Homo sapiens: one gene and its partner. The protein of the gene in region 2 binds, or shares a complex with, the protein of the main gene of each other region. Links are inferred from orthologs where the notes say so. Each region holds a gene or a part of one and is shown on either strand. Other genes may lie near its edges. The genes, in order: QTRT1 and QTRT2.

What was found.
Region 1: the proteins of QTRT2 (region 2) and QTRT1 are in contact, whole or in part, in a crystal structure (PDB 7OVS), measured with the Mus musculus proteins. The link is inferred for Homo sapiens from one-to-one orthologs. Residues at the interface, in NP_001343258.1 of Mus musculus: Arg39, Thr40, Gly41, Ser42, Ala43, Pro44, His45, Leu46, Thr47, His48, Gln49, Thr50, Asn53, Glu70, His71, Glu73, Val74, Glu77, Tyr78, Phe85, Ile86, Gly87, Phe119, Gln342, Glu343, Phe345, Tyr355, Asn359, His360, Ala363; in NP_068688.2 of Mus musculus: Thr50, Thr53, Met54, Lys55, Gly56, Ile57, Thr58, Thr59, Glu60, Gln61, Ser64, Arg80, Pro81, Leu85, Lys88, Ala89, Phe95, Met96, Asn97, Ala307, Lys308, Phe310, Pro320, Thr324, His325, Ala328, Phe329, Ala332, Leu333, His335.

Annotation. Positions count from the first base shown.
Region 1 is NC_000019.10:10,696,629-10,704,993, reverse strand, and holds the start of QTRT1 (queuine tRNA-ribosyltransferase catalytic subunit 1), read right to left. Parts: upstream 3,556-8,365; 5' UTR 3,534-3,555; coding exon 3,291-3,533; intron 3,045-3,290; coding exon 2,976-3,044; intron 2,879-2,975; coding exon 2,740-2,878; intron 1-2,739.
Region 2 is NC_000003.12:114,059,111-114,067,617, forward strand, and holds part of QTRT2 (queuine tRNA-ribosyltransferase accessory subunit 2), read left to right. Parts: intron 1-6,120; exon of another isoform or gene 6,121-6,126; coding exon of another isoform or gene 6,127-6,147; coding exon 6,148-6,347; intron 6,348-7,117; coding exon 7,118-7,173; intron 7,174-8,507. UniProt on the Homo sapiens protein: Non-catalytic subunit of the queuine tRNA-ribosyltransferase (TGT) that catalyzes the base-exchange of a guanine (G) residue with queuine (Q) at position 34 (anticodon wobble position) in tRNAs with GU(N) anticodons (tRNA-Asp, -Asn, -His and -Tyr), resulting in the hypermodified nucleoside queuosine (7-(((4,5-cis-dihydroxy-2-cyclopenten-1-yl)amino)methyl)-7-deazaguanosine).

The DNA of each region.
Region 1 (8,365 bases), on a different chromosome or scaffold from region 2:
CAGTGAGCCAAGATCGAGCCACTGCACTCCAGCCTAGGTGACAGAGCGAGATTCCACATCAAAAAAAAAAAAAAAAATTACGACATTCATTAAAAAGCTAGAACTTTAGCTGGGCATGGTGGCTCACACCTGTAATGCCAGCACTTTGGGAGGCTGAGGCAGGCGGATCACCTGAGGTCGGGAGTTCAAGACCAGCCTGACCAACATGGAGAAACCCCGTCTCTACCAAAAATACAAAATTAGCCGGGCATGGTGGCGCATGCCTGTCATCCCAGCTACTCGGGAGGCTGAGGCAGGAGAATCGCTTGAACCCAGGAGGCAGAGGTTGCTGTGAGCCGAGATTGCGCCATTGCACTCCAGCCTGGGCAACAAGAGCGAAACTCGGTTTCAAAAAAAAAGAGGCCGGGTGCGGTGGCTCACGCCTGTAATCCCAGCACTTTGGAAGGCCGAGATGGGCGAATCACGAGGTCAGGAGATCGAGACCATCCTGGCTAACACGATGAAACCCCGTCTCTAGTAAAAGTACAAAAAAATTAGCTGGGCGTAATGGCGGGTGCCTGTAGTCCCAGCTACTCCGGAGGCTGAGGCAGGAGAATGGCATGAACCCAGGAGGCGGAGCTTGCAGTGAGCCGAGATCGCGCCACCGCACTCCAGCCTGGGAGACTAAGCAAGACTCCATCTCCAGAAAAAACAAACAAACAAACAAAAAACACATGGGGGCTGGCACAGTGGCTCATGCTTGTAACATGAGCACTTTGAATGGTCAAGGCAAAGGACTGTTTGTAGCCAGGAGTTCAAGACCAGCCCAGATAATGTAGTGAGACTCTAATCTCTACAAAAAATATTTGGCCGGGCATGGTGGCTCACACCTGTAATCCCAGCACTTTGGGAGGCCAAGGCGGGCAGATCGCTTGAGGTCAGGAGTTCAAGACCAGCCTGGCCAACATGGCGAAACCCTGTCTCTACTAAAAATACAAAAAACTAGCTGGGCGTGGTGGCATGCACCTGTAATCCCAGCTACTTGGGAGGCTGAGGCAGGAGAATTGCTTGAGGCCAGGAGGCAGAGGTTGCAGTGACCTGAGATTGTGCCACTGTACTCTAGCCTGGGTGACAGAGTGAGACTCTGTCTCAAAATAATACATAAAAATAAATAAACATAAAAAAATAAACTTATAGGCCGGGCACAGTGGCTCATACCTGTAATCCCAGCACTTTGGGGGACCAAGATGGGCAGATCACTTGAGGTCAGGAGTTCGTAACCAGCCTGGCCAACATGGTGAAACCCCATCTCTACTGAAAATACAAAAATTAGCTGGGTGTGGTAGCGGGCACCTGTAATCCCAGCTACTTGGGAGGCTAAGGCAGGCGAATTGCTTGAACCAGGAGGCAGCTGTTGCAGTGAGTCATGATCGCGCCTCCGCCTCCCAAAGTGCTGGGATTACAGGCGTGGCCACCGCACCCAGCACGTGGCTTCTTTTCTTATAAGGGTTTTTGTTATAGGGGCTTCAGCCATGAATCTAAGAAGAAAAAATATTTCTTCCTCCCTACAGCATCAATCTATTAGAATGATGAGGGGAAGAGGGGTTTTGACCCTGTGTTGCCATGGTTCTTTATCAAGAAATGGGGATATTGGGCCAGGCGTGGTGGCTCACACCTATAATCCCAGCACTCTGCGAGGCCGAAGCAGGTGGATCACCTGAGGTCCGGAGTTTGAGACCAGCCTTGCCAACATAGTGAAACCCGTCTCTACAAAAAATACAAAAATTAGCTGGGCATGGTGGCAAGCAGTTGTAATCCCAGCTACTCAGCAGGCTGAGGCAGGAGAATCACTTGAACCCAGGAGGTGGAGGTTGCAGTGACTGGATATCACACCATTGCACTCCAGCCTGGGCGACTCTGTCTCAAAAAAAAAAAAAAAAAAAAAAAGCCAGGTGTGGTGGCTCACGCCTGGAATCCCAGCACTCTGGGAGGCCGAGGCAGGCGGATCACCTGAGCTCAGGAGTTTGAGAGTAGCCTAACCAACATGGAGAAACCCTGTCTCTACTAAAAATACAAAATTAGCCAGGTGTGGTGGCGCACACCTGTAATCCCAGCTACTCGGGAGGCTGAGTCAGGAGAATCACTTGAACCCGGGAGGCAGAGGTTGCAGTGAGCTCAGATCGCAAAATTGCACTCCAGCCTGGGCAACAAGAGCAAAATTCTGTCTCAAAAAAAAAAAAAAAAAAAAAAAAAAAGAAGGATATTGAGGATATGGGAGAAGCCTAAAGCCTCCCCAATCCTCTTGTTGCCACCATTATTTCAACAGATATTTGTCCAATTAATTTGTTTTTTTTATTTTTTATTTTTTATTTTGGTAGAGACAGGGTCTCCCTGTATTGCCCAAGCTGGTCTCCAACTCCCGGCCTCAAGTGATCTTCCCGCCTCAGTTTCCCAAATTGCTGGGATTACAGGCATGAGCTTCCACGTCCAGTCTTAATTTGCTAATGAGAGAAAAACTGCAATAATAATACTTAAGCTACTACATGGCTGGGATGGAGATTTACTGACATCATCTCATATGTACTTGTCAACAATTCTACCAAAGACCTGCTACTATTTACCCCCGCTTTGAGTTGGTTCAACTGAAGCTCAGCGAGGAGTGACCTGCTCAAAGCCACACAACAGCTAAAAAACAGGCCCCGTGTAAACTTCACCCCCTGACAGACAGGGTAAGGAGGCGGCTCCCCAGGGTCCTCTCACCCAGCGCATTCTGGATCTGCACGGATTTCTCCGGGCTCAGCAGGGTCTCATTGCCGTCGTAGGGGGAGCGGAAGCGGACGCCCTCCTCCGTCACCTCGGACAGAGACACCAGCGACACCATCTGGAAACCGCCGCTGTCCTAAGGGAAACCCCACCGCAAAGCTGTCAGGGGGTGGAGATGGGGACCCTTCACTCCAGAGAAGGGCCCTAGAACGTCGGCTCTCTCCTCAGCTCACCGTTAGCAGATTATGAGGCCAATTCATGAAGCCGTGGAGACCGTTGGCTTTCTGGATCAGCTCGGGTCCCTGGGTTGATGGAAGAAAGTGTCAGGTTAGGGGTGACCGCGTCCCTGGGGGCCCTTCTTGGGAGACAGATCTGGCCAGCTTTAGTCCCTGCTGCTCTTTCACGCCCAGTACAAGGCCTGGTCATTGGGGGCGCTCAATACAGCTGGTCGATTGACTTTGGGAGGAGTGTCCGGGCCTGGAGGACGCTCCATGGCTCCCCACGCCTCGCCGCCTCGCCGCCTCCCCGCGCGGGCAGAGCCCACCCACCGGCCTTAGACCCAGATGGTAGGTATTGCCCAGGCAGATGCGGCAACCCAGAGCGTCCAGCTGTTCGGTCGTGATGCCCTTCATGGTGGCCTGCGTGCCCACTGGCATGAACACAGGAGTGGCCACTGTCCCATGCGGCAGCCACAGCTCGCCTGCCCGGGCCCTGGAGCGGCTGCATTCGGCCACCAGCCGCATGATCCGTGGGGCCGACTCCAGGGAAGCCTGGGTAGCTGCTCCCGCCATCTTGACTGTCGGAACCACGTGGGCCGTACCACACAGTGGGCGGCGCCATGTTGGCCGCTGTCACGTGACCACGCGATCCGTTCTGGAGCCCGGGAAAGCGTCGGGGGACCATGGCAACGGATTTGAACCCCTGGTCCTGGCTGGGGGCCCATTTAACTCCTACCCACAACACGCTAAAGCGAAGAATCAGAATTGAACTGGGAACGAATCCCATCCCTAGCACTTTCGAGCTACAATCAGAGACTCTCTTAGCCATAATTTTCTCTTGGATAAAATGTGGCGAATTACAGCATCTCGGCATAAAGACTTTGTAAAGATTGAATAAAGGGCCGGGGGTGGTGGCTCACGCCTGTAATCCCAGCACTTTGGGAGGCCGAGGAGGGAGGATCACGAGGTCATGGGATGGAGACCATCCTGGCTAACACAGTGAAACCCCGTCTCTACTAAAAATACAAAAAATTAGCCGGGCGCAGTGGCAGGCACCTGTAGTCCCAGCTACTCCGGAGGCCGAGGCAGGAGAATGGCGTGAACCTGGGAGGCAGAGCTTGCAGTGAGCCGAGATCGTGCCACTGCACTCCAGCCTGGGTGACAGAGCGAGACTCCATCTCAAAAAAAAAAAAAAAAAAAAAATTAAGCTGGTGTGGCTGGGTGCGGTGGCTCACGCCTGTAATCCCAGCGCTTTGAGAGGCTGAGGCGGGCGGATGACCTGATGTTGGGAGTTCGAGACCAGCCTGACCAATGTGGAGAAACCCCGTCTCTACTAAAAATACAAAATTAGCCAGGCATGGTGGTGCATGCCTGTAATCCCAGCTACTCCGAAGGCTGAGGCAGGATAATTGCTTGAACCTGGGAGGCGGAGTTTGCAGTGAGCCGAGATCGTGCCATTGCACCCCAGCCTGGGTAACAGGAGCAAAACTCTGTGTCAAAAAGAAAAAAAAGTTTTAAAAATTAAAAAATTAACAGGTTGTGAGCCAGGCACGGTGGCTCACGCCTGTAATCCCAGCACTTTGGGAGGCCAAGGCGGGCGGATCACGATGTCAGGAGTTCAAGACCAGCCTGGCCAGTATGGTGAAACCCCGTCTCTACTAAAAAAATACAAAAATTAGCCGGGCGTGGGGGTGCGTGCCTGTAGTCCCAGCTATTCGGGAGGCTGAGGCAGGAGAATCGCTTGAACCCGGGAGGCGGAGGTCGAGCCACGATTGCGCCACTGCACTCCAGCCTGGGCGACAAAGCGAGACTTCATCTAAAAAACAAAAACAAAAACAAAATCAAAACAAAAACATTAACATGGTGTGGTGGCACGCCCCTGTAGTCTCAGCTACTCAAGAAGCTGAGGCAGGAGGATCACTTGAGCTGAAGAGTTGGAGGCTGCAGTGAGCTATGATTGGGCTACTGTACACCAGGCTGGGCAACAGAGTGAGACCGAAACCCTAAAAAAAAAGATAATAATAATATACAATATTATATAGTAATTGTTATCATTACAACTGGATCTGATATCTGTCCTGGCCAGCAGAGAGCGCTATTGTCCCAGAAGATGTCCTTTCAATTGTCTTAAACTGAGCTACTCTGGCCAAGAGGGTGTCTAAGGGAGCCTCAAGCCCCCTATCCTGTAAGAAAGGCTAAGGATGCCGGTTGCCCAGATGGTGGGGCATCCTTAGTAAGGCCACACCCGGAAAACCCGCCTGGAAAACACCCCTGCCCACCAGCAAGCCAACCTCAGGGCCTTTGCACCTGCCTTTGTCTACAACACTCATCCTTTCTTTTCTATTTCTTTTCTTTCTTTTCTTTTCTTCTTTTTTTTTTTTGAGACAGAATCTCACTCTGTTGCCCAGGCTGGAGTGTAGTGGCACAGTCTCAGCTCACTGCAACCTCCGCCTCTCAGGTTCAAGCGATTCTCCTACGTCAGCCTCCCAAGCAACCGGGATTACAGGTGCCTGCTGCCACACCCGGCTAATTTTTTTTTTATTTTTGAGATGGAGTCTTGCTCTGCTTCCCAGGCTGGAGTGCAGTGGCACAATCTCTGCTCACTGAAAGCTCTGCCTGCCAGGTCCACGCCATTTTCCTGCCTCAGCCTCCTGAGTAGCTGGGACTACAGGCGCCTGCCACCACGCCCAGCTAATTTTTTGTATTTTTAGTAGAGACCGGTGTTCACCATGTTAGCCAGGATGGTCTTGATCTCCTGACCTGGTGATCCACCTGCCTTGGCCTCCCAAAGTGCTGGGATTACAGGCGTGAGCCACCGCACTCGGCCGTTTTTTGTTTTTTTTTTTTTTGAGACGGAGTTTTGCTCTTGTTGCCCAGGCTGGAGAGTGCAATAGTGCAATCTTGGCTCACTACAACCTCCACCTCCTGGGTTCAAGTGATTCTCCTGCCTCAGCCTCCTGAGTAGCTGGGATTACAGGCATACGCCACCACGCCTGGCTAATTTTTTTGTATTTTTAGTAGCGACAGGGTTTCTCCATATTGGCCAGTCTGGTCTCGAACTCCTGACCTCAGGTGATCCTCCCACCTTGGCCTCCCAAAGTGCTGGGATTACAGGTGTGAGCCACCGCGTCCGGCTAATTTTTGTTTTTAGTAGAGATAAGGTTTCACCATGATGGCCAGGCTGGTCTCAAACTCCTGACCTCAAGCGATCCACCCATCTAGGCCTCCCAAAGTGCTAGGATACAGGTGTGAGCCACCGTGCCCAGCTAATATTTCTATTTTTCAAAATGTTTACCAGGCGCAGTGGCTCACGCCTGTAATTCCAGCACTTTGGGAGGCCAAGGTGGGTGGATCATATGAGCCCACGAGTTAGAGACCAGCCTGGGCAACATGGCAAAAAAAAAAAAAAAAAAAAAGTTAAAAAATTACCCATAATTCCAGTTACTTGGGAGACTGAAGCAGGAGGATTGCCACAGCGCCTGGCCAATATGTGTTTAAGTCTGCTTCTTGCCAAGCTTTCTGTGTTATTCTGATGCCCACTCGTTTCAGAACCACTGTTTTTCACTCTTGGCTGCACATAGAATTACCTGTGGAGTTTTTAACTATCTCTATGCCCAGACAACTTAAACTAAAATCTATGGTGAGTAGCTTATGTACTTTGGGACGATGAAGTAGGAGGATTGCTTGAGGCCAGAAATTAGAGTCGCCCAGGCTAGGGTGCAATGGTGCGATCTCGGCTCACTGCAACCTCCACCTCCCGGGTTCAAGAAATTCTCCTGCCTCAGCCTCCTAAAGTAGCTGGGATTACAGGCGCCCACCACCATGCCCAGCTAATTTTTTGTATTTTTAGTAGAGACAGGGTTTTGCAATGTTGGCCAGGTTGGTCTCGAACTCCTGACCTCAGGTGATCCACCTGCCTCAGTCTCCCAAAGTGCTGGGGTTACAGGTGTGATCCACTGCACCTGGCCGATCATCTCTTAAAAAAAAAAATCTATGGGGATGAGACTCAGTCATCAATTTTCTTTTGTTTTTTGTTTTAAGCCTCAAGGAATTTCTGTGTGCAGCCAATGTTGCCTCTCAGTGGTTTAGGTTCCAAAAACAGCATTTCATTATCTTATCCAAAGTGAGTCTCTTTCTTTTCTGGGTGACCTTATCTTGGAGCTCTGACCTGCCTGCAATTCTTGGTTATCCAAAGCTTCTGGGATGTTGGAGGGAATCCTCTGCATTTTAGAATGCAATCACCATGATTGGATGAATGGCTGATTGGATTAAGGGTTGCCTGGATTTGCTGTTCTGAAGCTAGTATAGCCCCTTCTTTTCTTGGCCACCTAACACCTGACCCCGCTCATACACCCCTGCATTGAGAGAATGTCATATTTTTTAAGGCTAAGCCTGCCTTTCCATAGAAGTTATAATTGACAGTTACTTTCCCAGCCTGCCCTGCAGCCAGGCTGCACAAGGCTCAGGTTCTGCCATTCACAATTTGGATCAAAAGCCAGTGGTGGTGGCCGGGCACAGTGGCTCACACTTGTAATCCCAGCACTTTGGGAGGCTGAGGCGGGCGGATCACCTGAGGTCGGGAGTTTGAGACCAGCCTGGCCAACATGGAGAAACCCCATCTCTACTAAAAATACAAAATTAGCCGGGCATGGTGGCATATACCTATAATCCCAGATACTAAGGAGGCTGAGGAAGGAGAATTGGTTGAACCTGGGAGATGGAGGTTGTGGTGATCCGAGATCGTGCCATTGCACTCCAGCCTGGGCAAGAAGAGTGAAACTCCGTCTCAAAAAAAAAAAAAAAAAGAAAAAGAAAAAGAAAAAAGCCAATGATAAGGAGAAACAGGCCCTTGGGCTCGAAAACACTAGGGACAGGAGTTGGAGGCAGCTACATCCATGTCACAGAGATTCATGAAAATAAGAACAGTTTATGTCAAAACTGAAGCTACACTCAGGAAGTTTATAGGTGGTTGCACATCTGGTCTCCAGCCACAGTAATCCTTGTAGCATCAACTACAGTCTCTGTACTTAGTCATTGTGAGATTGGGCTATGTGTGGGGTTGGCGTTGGGGTACCACCACTAGCTGTGTAGCCCCTGATGCTGGTTCTCTGCCCCTCCTGGAGATCACTGTGCCACCTGACATTCTTCATTACACACTTTTCAAGCATAGACAAACGGACAGAGAATTGCATAGTTATCACCTTGTAACCAATGACCCAGCTTCAACAATTATCAAAAGAGGCTTAATCCACCCACTTAAACAAATATATTCTAGTCCGGATGCAGTGGCTCACGCCTGTAATTCCAGCACCTTGGGAGGCTGAGGCAGGTAGATCGCTTGAGCCCAGGAGTTGGAGACCAGCCTGGGCAACACGGCGAAAACCTCTGCTGTACTAAAAATACAA
Region 2 (8,507 bases):
GAGTGGAGGTGGTGGGTCGCACTGGAAGTGTTAGGACAGGTACGGTGTTGCCAGAAGTGCAGGGAATCTTTGTTAGTCCTTGTAAAGGTACAGATCCACTGACAGCCTGTCATTTGTCTTTACACTCTTAAGGGTTTTTCCTTAAGACTTTCTCAGGAATGCCATCTGTGACACCAGAAATATTAGAGCAGACCCACAACAAGTGAAAAGGGAAGGGATCATGATAAAGGCAAATAAAAACTAGTTAGTATTTTGGAGACTGTTGATCTGTTTCTTGAACTTTCCTTGGCAAAAAAGGAAATAATCACTCTCAAAGCATGTTTTTAAAAATATGTACATGAATATGTGTATGTGTGTGTACTATTTTATTACTTCATAGTAACAATTTATTGTATTTGAGCCTCTAGAAAAGAAGTGTAATTATAAAAAACATTTACCATAACCTGAACAATGAATGAAGAAAGGAAGACTTGGTTCTTCTAGCTCTGGACAAAATTCCATTTTTTTAAAAAAAATATTGATTTCCAGCTGAAGTATAGTACATCTCTGATGTTTTCCTCAGATTTTAAAATATTTGCATTCATCCCCACAAAACAGAATCACTGACCATGGCAGTTTATTTTAATACTTTTTCTTAAACCCAGTCATCTGCTTTTGCTTCCTTATTTTTCTCTTCGTTAATATGTTGAGTTACTGTGATTAGGGTGGAACTTTTATGAAGCCCCAAACAACAGAAGTGAGTATGTAGCACCAAAATCGTTCACTGTAGAGAAAGCCAAGTAGGTATTTCTCTCCAGCTGGCTGAGTGGGTTCAGTATTCTAAGCTGAGGATTTTGAATTTCATCTTTAAAGTTATTTGGGATTAAAGCATTATATCACAGGAGAGCCCATCTCTGCCTCTAAGAACATGGTGGCCAATGTCCTTTAGAGTTACAAAGGACCTCTAATTACAGACTTTCAGTTAAGAATCAAGAAAGTTGTTTCTTCAGTTGAGGAAAGAGTGGGAAGGGGAGATGAGAGGGAAGGGGAGATGAGAAAGAAGAGAGAAGATGCCTTCAGGACTGAGTGGATGATTAATCACACTTGAGACTCGTTTGTTAAAAGATGGGAACTTCTAGAATATGTTCATTCTTTCCTTACACAAGGATGAAACTAAGAAGTCTTTGAGAGAAAGGTAAGTCTTGGAAGCCAATGGTCTGGGCTTCCAGGTCTGGCTGCCTTTATACTCTTAGAGAATCCTTGTGTCCAACCTTGGAGAATCTGAGATTGGTTGTTTGGTCATCTTCGCTTATCTGTGGGGAATATGTTCCAAGACCCCTTGTGGATGCTGGAAACTGCAAATGGTTCCAAACCCCAGATAGATAGGTAGGTAGGTAGGTAGGTAGGTAGATAGATAGATAGATAGATAGATAGATAGATAGATAGATAGATAGATAAGATAGATTAGATAGATAGATTAGATAGATCCAAACCCTAAATAGATAGACAGACAATAGACAGACAGTATGATGTTTCCTATCTATACATACCTATAATAAAGTTTAATTTATTAATTAGGCACAGTAGTAGATGTTAGTCACCTCGGCAAACAGTCTTTTTTCTTTTCCTAGTTGGAGAACTTTAACCTTTTCTCATAAGGGATCACTTTATGGCTTCCCTTTGGCATATCCGTATTGCCAGCATCACAACTCTTGTGCTGTGGGGCCAGTCGTAAGTAAAATAAGGGTAACTTGAACATAAGCACTGCAATACAGTGACGGTTGATCTGATCAATGTGACAGCTCCTAAGTAACTAAGGGGCGAGTGGCGTCTACAGTGTGAAGATGCTGGGCAAAGGGATGATTCACGTCCTGGGTGGAACAGAGCAAAATGGTGAGAGATTTCATTATGCTACTCAGAATGGCATGCAATTTCAAACTTATGTTTATTTCAGGAATTTTCCGTTTAATATGTTTGGACCTCGGATGTCCATGGGTAACTGAAACTGGAAAGCAGAACTGTGAATGGGGGTACTGTGTTAAGAAAACCGATGGGTTTCCTTTTAGTTGCCTTTATGTACCTTCTTCTTCCCATTCTGATTCTATGCTTGCATGGCATATTTGGCTTCATGTATTGCATTCTATAGGGCAAACATGCCACTGACTGATCCACTTTGCTTTTTTCGATTCTCAGAGTAAATAATTGTGCATACTGATTTTATTGTTTAGTCTCTGAGGTTGATAGGTTTGAGCCTGACCCTGAGTGATGGCTCTGTGCTGGGTATATAGAAAAGATCAGGCTCAGCTTACCAGGCAGAAGCCTAAATCCCTTACCAGTGGCCAGCCAGCCCTCCAAGCAGTACAAGACTGTAAGGCACTGGAGGGAGCAGCAGCAGGTGGCTAATCTTTGAGCCCCTGTGTAATTCTGTTGGCACAGGTTAAAGAACTTGACAGCTGCTTTCTTTTATCTCTTTTCTTTCTCTTTCTTTTCTTCTTCTTTGTTTTTAAGACAGGATCTCCCTCTGTTGCCCAGGCTGGAGTGCCAGTGGCGTGATCATGGCTCACTGCAGTCTCTGCCTCCCTGGCTTAAGGGATCTTCCTACCTCAGATTCCCAAGTAGCTAGGACTACAGGTGCATGCCACCATTCCTGGCTAGTTTTTGTATTTTTTGTAGAGACAGGGTTTCATTGTGTTGCCCAGGCTGCTCTTGAACTCCTGGGCTCAAGCGATCTGCCCACCTTGGCCTCCCAAACTGCTGGAATTACAGGCGTGAGCCAATGTGCCCAACCAAAGCCACTTTCTTTTTATGACTTTCCACAGTGTGTTCTAGGGGAAAAAAACAAAAAGATGTTTCATAGATTTCACATATACTTTTGAAAAATCTTGTTATTTTCAGTGGCCATGGTATGCTGCAGGATATTCTAAAAAAAAAAAAAAAAAAATCTGAATGCATCTCCTAGCATGTTAAATTTACTCTCACATAAAAGCCATAATTGGATGGGTGCAGTGGCTCACGCCTGTAATCCCAACACTTTGGGAGGTCAAGGCAGGAGGATCACTTGAGCGCAGGAGTTTGAGACCAGCCTGGGCAACGTAGTGAGACTCCATCTCTCCAAAAAAAGTTTTTTAATTAGTTAGGTGCAGTGGTTGGGCACCTGTGGTCTCAGCTACTTAGGAGGCTGAGGTGGGAAGGTTACTTGAGCCTGGGATGTCAAGGCTACAGTAAGCCGTGATTACACCACTGCACTCCAGCCTGGGCAATAGAGTGAGACCTTGTCTCAAAAAAAAAAAAAAAAAAAAAAAGAATAAAAAGAATACAGGCCTTTTGCAGGAGGCCCAGGTTCTAGACAAGCCTATGACTAAGCAGGCCTAGTCTCAGACTGATTACAATAAAATGGCAGAAGGGGTGATGTGGTGATGAGGAATTCCCAGGTAGGGGTCTCTGGTAGTAATGGAACTCTATAAACTATTTTCAGTATTTCTAAAGTCTAATGGTAATTATACAATACTGGGATATTAAGCACAGTTTTACTAAAGCAATGGGGTTTGTTGTTTTTACCTGGAATTCAGTTAACACAACATGGAAAAGCAGATTATCTCATGCTTGTCAGAAGCTTTGGTTGTCAGTCATTTGTGTCATTTATTAATAAACTGGAGAAACGAGAGCATAAATTTGATGAGGAGAGATAATAAAAGTAACATTCTAGAATCCTATACTTCATTTTTCAAACGTATTAGTTTTACCCAATGAAGGTTCTTCGTGCCTTTATATGAATTTAATTTAAAAAACACTGTTCATGTGTGTACATTTAAACTCTTTACATACTTTACACAGCTCAGATGAGAGAGTATTTTTGGAGTAAGATAGAATTTTTGGAGGAGCCAGCAAGTTCTTGTCTCTAGCCCTTTCTGAAATAGCTTCGGGCAACACAGTTTCTTCCGTTCTCAGACGTATGTGATAGTAGGAAATGCGTAAGTTACTGCAGCATTTAAAAATTCTGGTCCGTTTAATTTTCATTAGTTCTTATTTGTGTTTCAAGAAATCTAGTGTTCCATATTGGTTGATTTCAATATTCAGTCAGAACAACAGGTATTGATTCATGAAGCTTTGAAGTACATTTCTCATCTTTGTGCTTCCCCCTGCTTCAATTCTCCAGAGCTACTTAGATTACAAAAGTCTGTCTTAAATTTCACATTAGAACTCTGTTGGTTTAAAATATAAAATACATTTTTATCACTTGAAATCAGTATTATCTGATAAATAAATAAAGATTACAATTCTTTTATATTTTCTACAGTATGCTTTTATTAGCTTATAAGTATAGTTTTACAGTTTTCTTAAATGAACCTTCTTGTTTTAGCAGTTTTAATGTGTAACAATAGGGTATGTAAAAAAATAGCTTTTATACTATTTATTAAAATATAACCTTTTTTTCCTTACCAGTCTCCATTTATGTGGGTTCTAATGACACTTATTTGTATGTTTCTATCTTAGTGATAACTTGAAATAATGATCTCATAGTTATAGAAAATTGACCAGGCTTTCATCAAACACTTATATTAGTTTTTATAATTTGTGTTTAGCATAAAATCTCTTCTTAGACCATATAGAAAGTAGTTATTCTTTTTTTTTAAGAAAGTAGTTATTCTTATGTCTAAGATTCTAATGACAAAGATGGCTATTTTATTTAAATTTAAGAATTTATGTCTCCTAAAAAAAAGTAATGTTTTTATTCTTGAATATATTTAACTAATGATAGATATGTCTTATTTATTTGGTGACATTTTAACAATGGTTGACTTTCAGAGTATGGTATGCTATAATGCTTAAGAAAATGGGATCTGGCCGGGCACAGTGGCTCATGCTTGTTACCTCAGCACTTTGGGAGGCTGAGGTGGGCGGATCACCTGAGGTCAGGAGTTCGAGACCAGCCTGGCCAACATGGTGAAACCCCATTTCTACTACAAATACAAAAGTCATCTGGGCATGGCGGCACACACCTGTAATCTCAACTACTTGGGAGGCTGAGGCAGGAGAATCTCTTGAACCCGAGAAGCAGAGGTTACAGTGAGCTGAGATCGCTTCACTGCACTCCAGCCTGGGTGACAGAGCGAGATTCTGTGTCCAAAAAAAAATGAAAGAGAGAAAAGAAAAGAAAATTGGATCCTCTCTGATAGCTCATTTGTCAACTAATAAAACTGGGCCTGGCCCAGTTTTTAAGAATTCCAGAAGATATGGTACTTGCTGTAGAGATGTAATGAAGTATTTGTAAAATGTTGGTATGTCTGGTGACATTTAGCCGATGATGTGTGTGCTTATCAAGTTCTGTAGTGCATTTTAAAAGTGGAACCCAGTATTTTGCTTCACTGAATACTAAATCATTTAGGAGCACCCAACAAGTAATTGATAATGTTTTCTGATTTTTTTTCCCTGTATATCTATAGAAGTTAGAAAGTGTATCTTTATTTTTTTCTTTAAACACATATTAGTCTTTCCCAGTTATAAAAGTAATGACACTTTGCTTATGGATTGCGTGTATGCTCCACACAGTTTCTCACTTCTGTTTGGATACCATATAAGAACAAATTGGGAAATAATCCGACCTCAGAGATCTGTTTATGTTTTGACATTTATTTTTCCATATATTTTCATAAACACCAGGATGCTCTTTTCTTCACTTAACAGCATTATTAGGAAAAAATTGCTATATTGCTTAGCCTTCCCTCAAATTGGAGAAAGAAAAAAGTGGATTATATCAATAATCAGTATGGCCTAAGCAGTGTTACTGTTCTCTGTATACATTTTCAAGGCTGAGAGAGCCTTGGCTTCATGGCATTCTTTCCATGATTAGTCTTTCTAATTCTGTTCTTTCATTTGTTTGGTTTTCATCAGCTCAGACAAAAATTCCATGACTAAATTTAAAATTAGTTGATGCCAATATGTGGTTCTGGGACCTTAGGGAAGATGTCTTATTCTCTTTATGTCTTTTCCCATTCCCCCGTTCCTGATATCTATGAAAATATTTAGACTGGAAGCAGTAATAAGCATGCTATCATTCATTTTCCTGAAGATTTTTTTTTTTTGCAAAATGCTTGGCCTCTAGGTGTTGTGAAGCTCCTTCTATACTTAATGCTCTTTTCTTGACAGGACCTAGAAGAATCCCTTAGGATGAAGCTGAGTCTTACCAAGGTAGTTAATGGCTGTCGCCTAGGAAAAATAAAAAACCTGGGCAAAACAGGGGACCACACCATGGATATTCCAGGCTGCCTTCTGTATACCAAGACTGGCTCCGCCCCACACCTCACCCATCACACGCTGCATAATATCCACGGGGTTCCTGCCATGGCTCAGCTTACGCTGTCATCCCTGTAAGTGTTAGAACCAATGATTCAAGTATCAACTGTGGCAGCAGCTTAGTTACCTTAGGTGCAAAAAAGAGAAATATTTTTTTTTGTTCATATATATAAATTGTCGATTTTCATAATGAAATCAGAAGAGAGGTTTCAAATATTATACATCTTCTGGCCCTAATCTGGAAGCCACAGGCCAGACCTATATGTTAGATCTGCTTCACTTTTCCTCCAAACCTACAGTCCCATACTGCCATGTCGCCACTGCTCCCAGGGGTGACAGGGCGGGGAATGTTCTGTGAGAGCTGCATTTGGAGTTCAGGAGCTGTTATCATGCACCAGCCTCAAAGTTTTTTCTGCCTTTGCACATATACTTGCTAATACTACTTTATGGAAACAGAACTAAAGTTAGATCATTTTGTGTAATGTATATACTGACTTTATACTTAATTGAAAAGCCTACTATATGACCAATTAACATAATAGTCTGCAGCGTTGTGTTAACAACAGAGATTTTAAAGGGGCAAGAGAAGGAAGAAAATTCAAGTATTCTGAAGGAGTTGATCTTTGCCAGTTTCATGTCTCACAGAACCACTAGCAAGTTGAAGGCCTTCGTTCTGGCTAATGAACCTAGCCTAATTAGTTAGAACTCTTGAATAATGGTGTAATTCAAGACAGCATTTACCATGATGTAACTTATTTGGGTGAGGAGAAGAGGGCTCCAGTTGTACAGAGTATTTACAGAATGACACATTATTATGTTATGTATTTTTCTGTTTTGCTTACAGAGCAGAACATCATGAAGTCTTGACAGAATATAAAGAAGGAGTTGGAAAGTTTATAGGTAAAAATTAAGTTACTTATATGTGCCTTGTGATGTGTTAATTTGGAGTTTGGAGGTGCTGTTACCTCTTTGATCTTTCATTCATATGTTTGTTTATTCATAAATTTAATAAGTATTATTTGAACATCTAAGAGCCAGGCATTGGCAAGTCAAGATTGAATAGGAAACAGTTGCTGCTCTCATGGAATTTGGAGCCTAGCTGGGATAAAGATAGAGAATTCTAGTAAAAATTGTGGTTACTGCTTTACAGGATTAGGGATATGTATGGATATCATGACAGGCCAGAGGGCAGAGCATATAACCTGCTCTAGGGTATATGTGCAAGGTGGTCAGAATAAAAAACGGATTCTTTTTTTTGTTTACGCCTCCATAAAAACCCAGAGAAAGGATTCTTGAGAGAGAAGTTGAGGGGCATTTTAGCTGGGTCAAGGAAGAGTAAAAGTTACCCAGGTTAGGAGTGGGAGCCCAGACAGGTGTGGGGCAGATGCTGCAGGCACTGAGTATCTGACTCAGCGGTGAGAACTTGCATGGGGCATTCGTGAGCTCCAAAGTAGTCTCATCATGCTTGAACCTCAAACATGCAGGGGAGGATGAAGCGTTTGTATATGGCTGTATTCTGATATGTTAATATTATCCTTTATTCCAGAAATAGGATTTTATATGCAGATGTATGCATCTATTTATTTATAGGAAAAGCTTAGCAGTGACAGCTAGAACATCAGTTCTTCTATACACCGCTTTCTCCTAACGCTTTTTCTGGTATCTAGGACTCACTTGAATGAAAATCCTGTTTCCATTGGTTATTCAGTCTTCTGCTTCTGAGAGCAGCTGCATGATGTCCTGTTGGTTATCACAAAGCCCTGTATTTTAGTAGAGGAATTTATGGAATATCATTCTCCTTGACCTGAGCCCAATTTTAATAACCAGCTTTAAAGTATACAAGCATATAATTAAATGAAAATAGCTAATGTAGGCTTTCTAGAGATAATTGTAATAATTGAAATTATGGAAAATAAAGTGAAAAAACTGCAGAGGTTTTACACTTGCTTTTTTTTCACTGGAATCCTGTTTTATTTTCCTTAACGAAAATGTGGGCTAGCATATGATATTTAGGCACATGGTTTACTAAACTTTTTTTGCATTTTTTAAAAAATGATTGTCTTTTTGACTGAAGAACTTAAGAAACTGTCATCGTGAATCAATGAAACTTACTAAGAATGGGATCCATTTGCAGCATCCTATAGCTTCTCTAAAATTCTGCCCCTAGGGACCCATGATATTATTGAGATTTATTATTAGTGAGATCACTTTGTGGGCATATCATTTTATCTTTG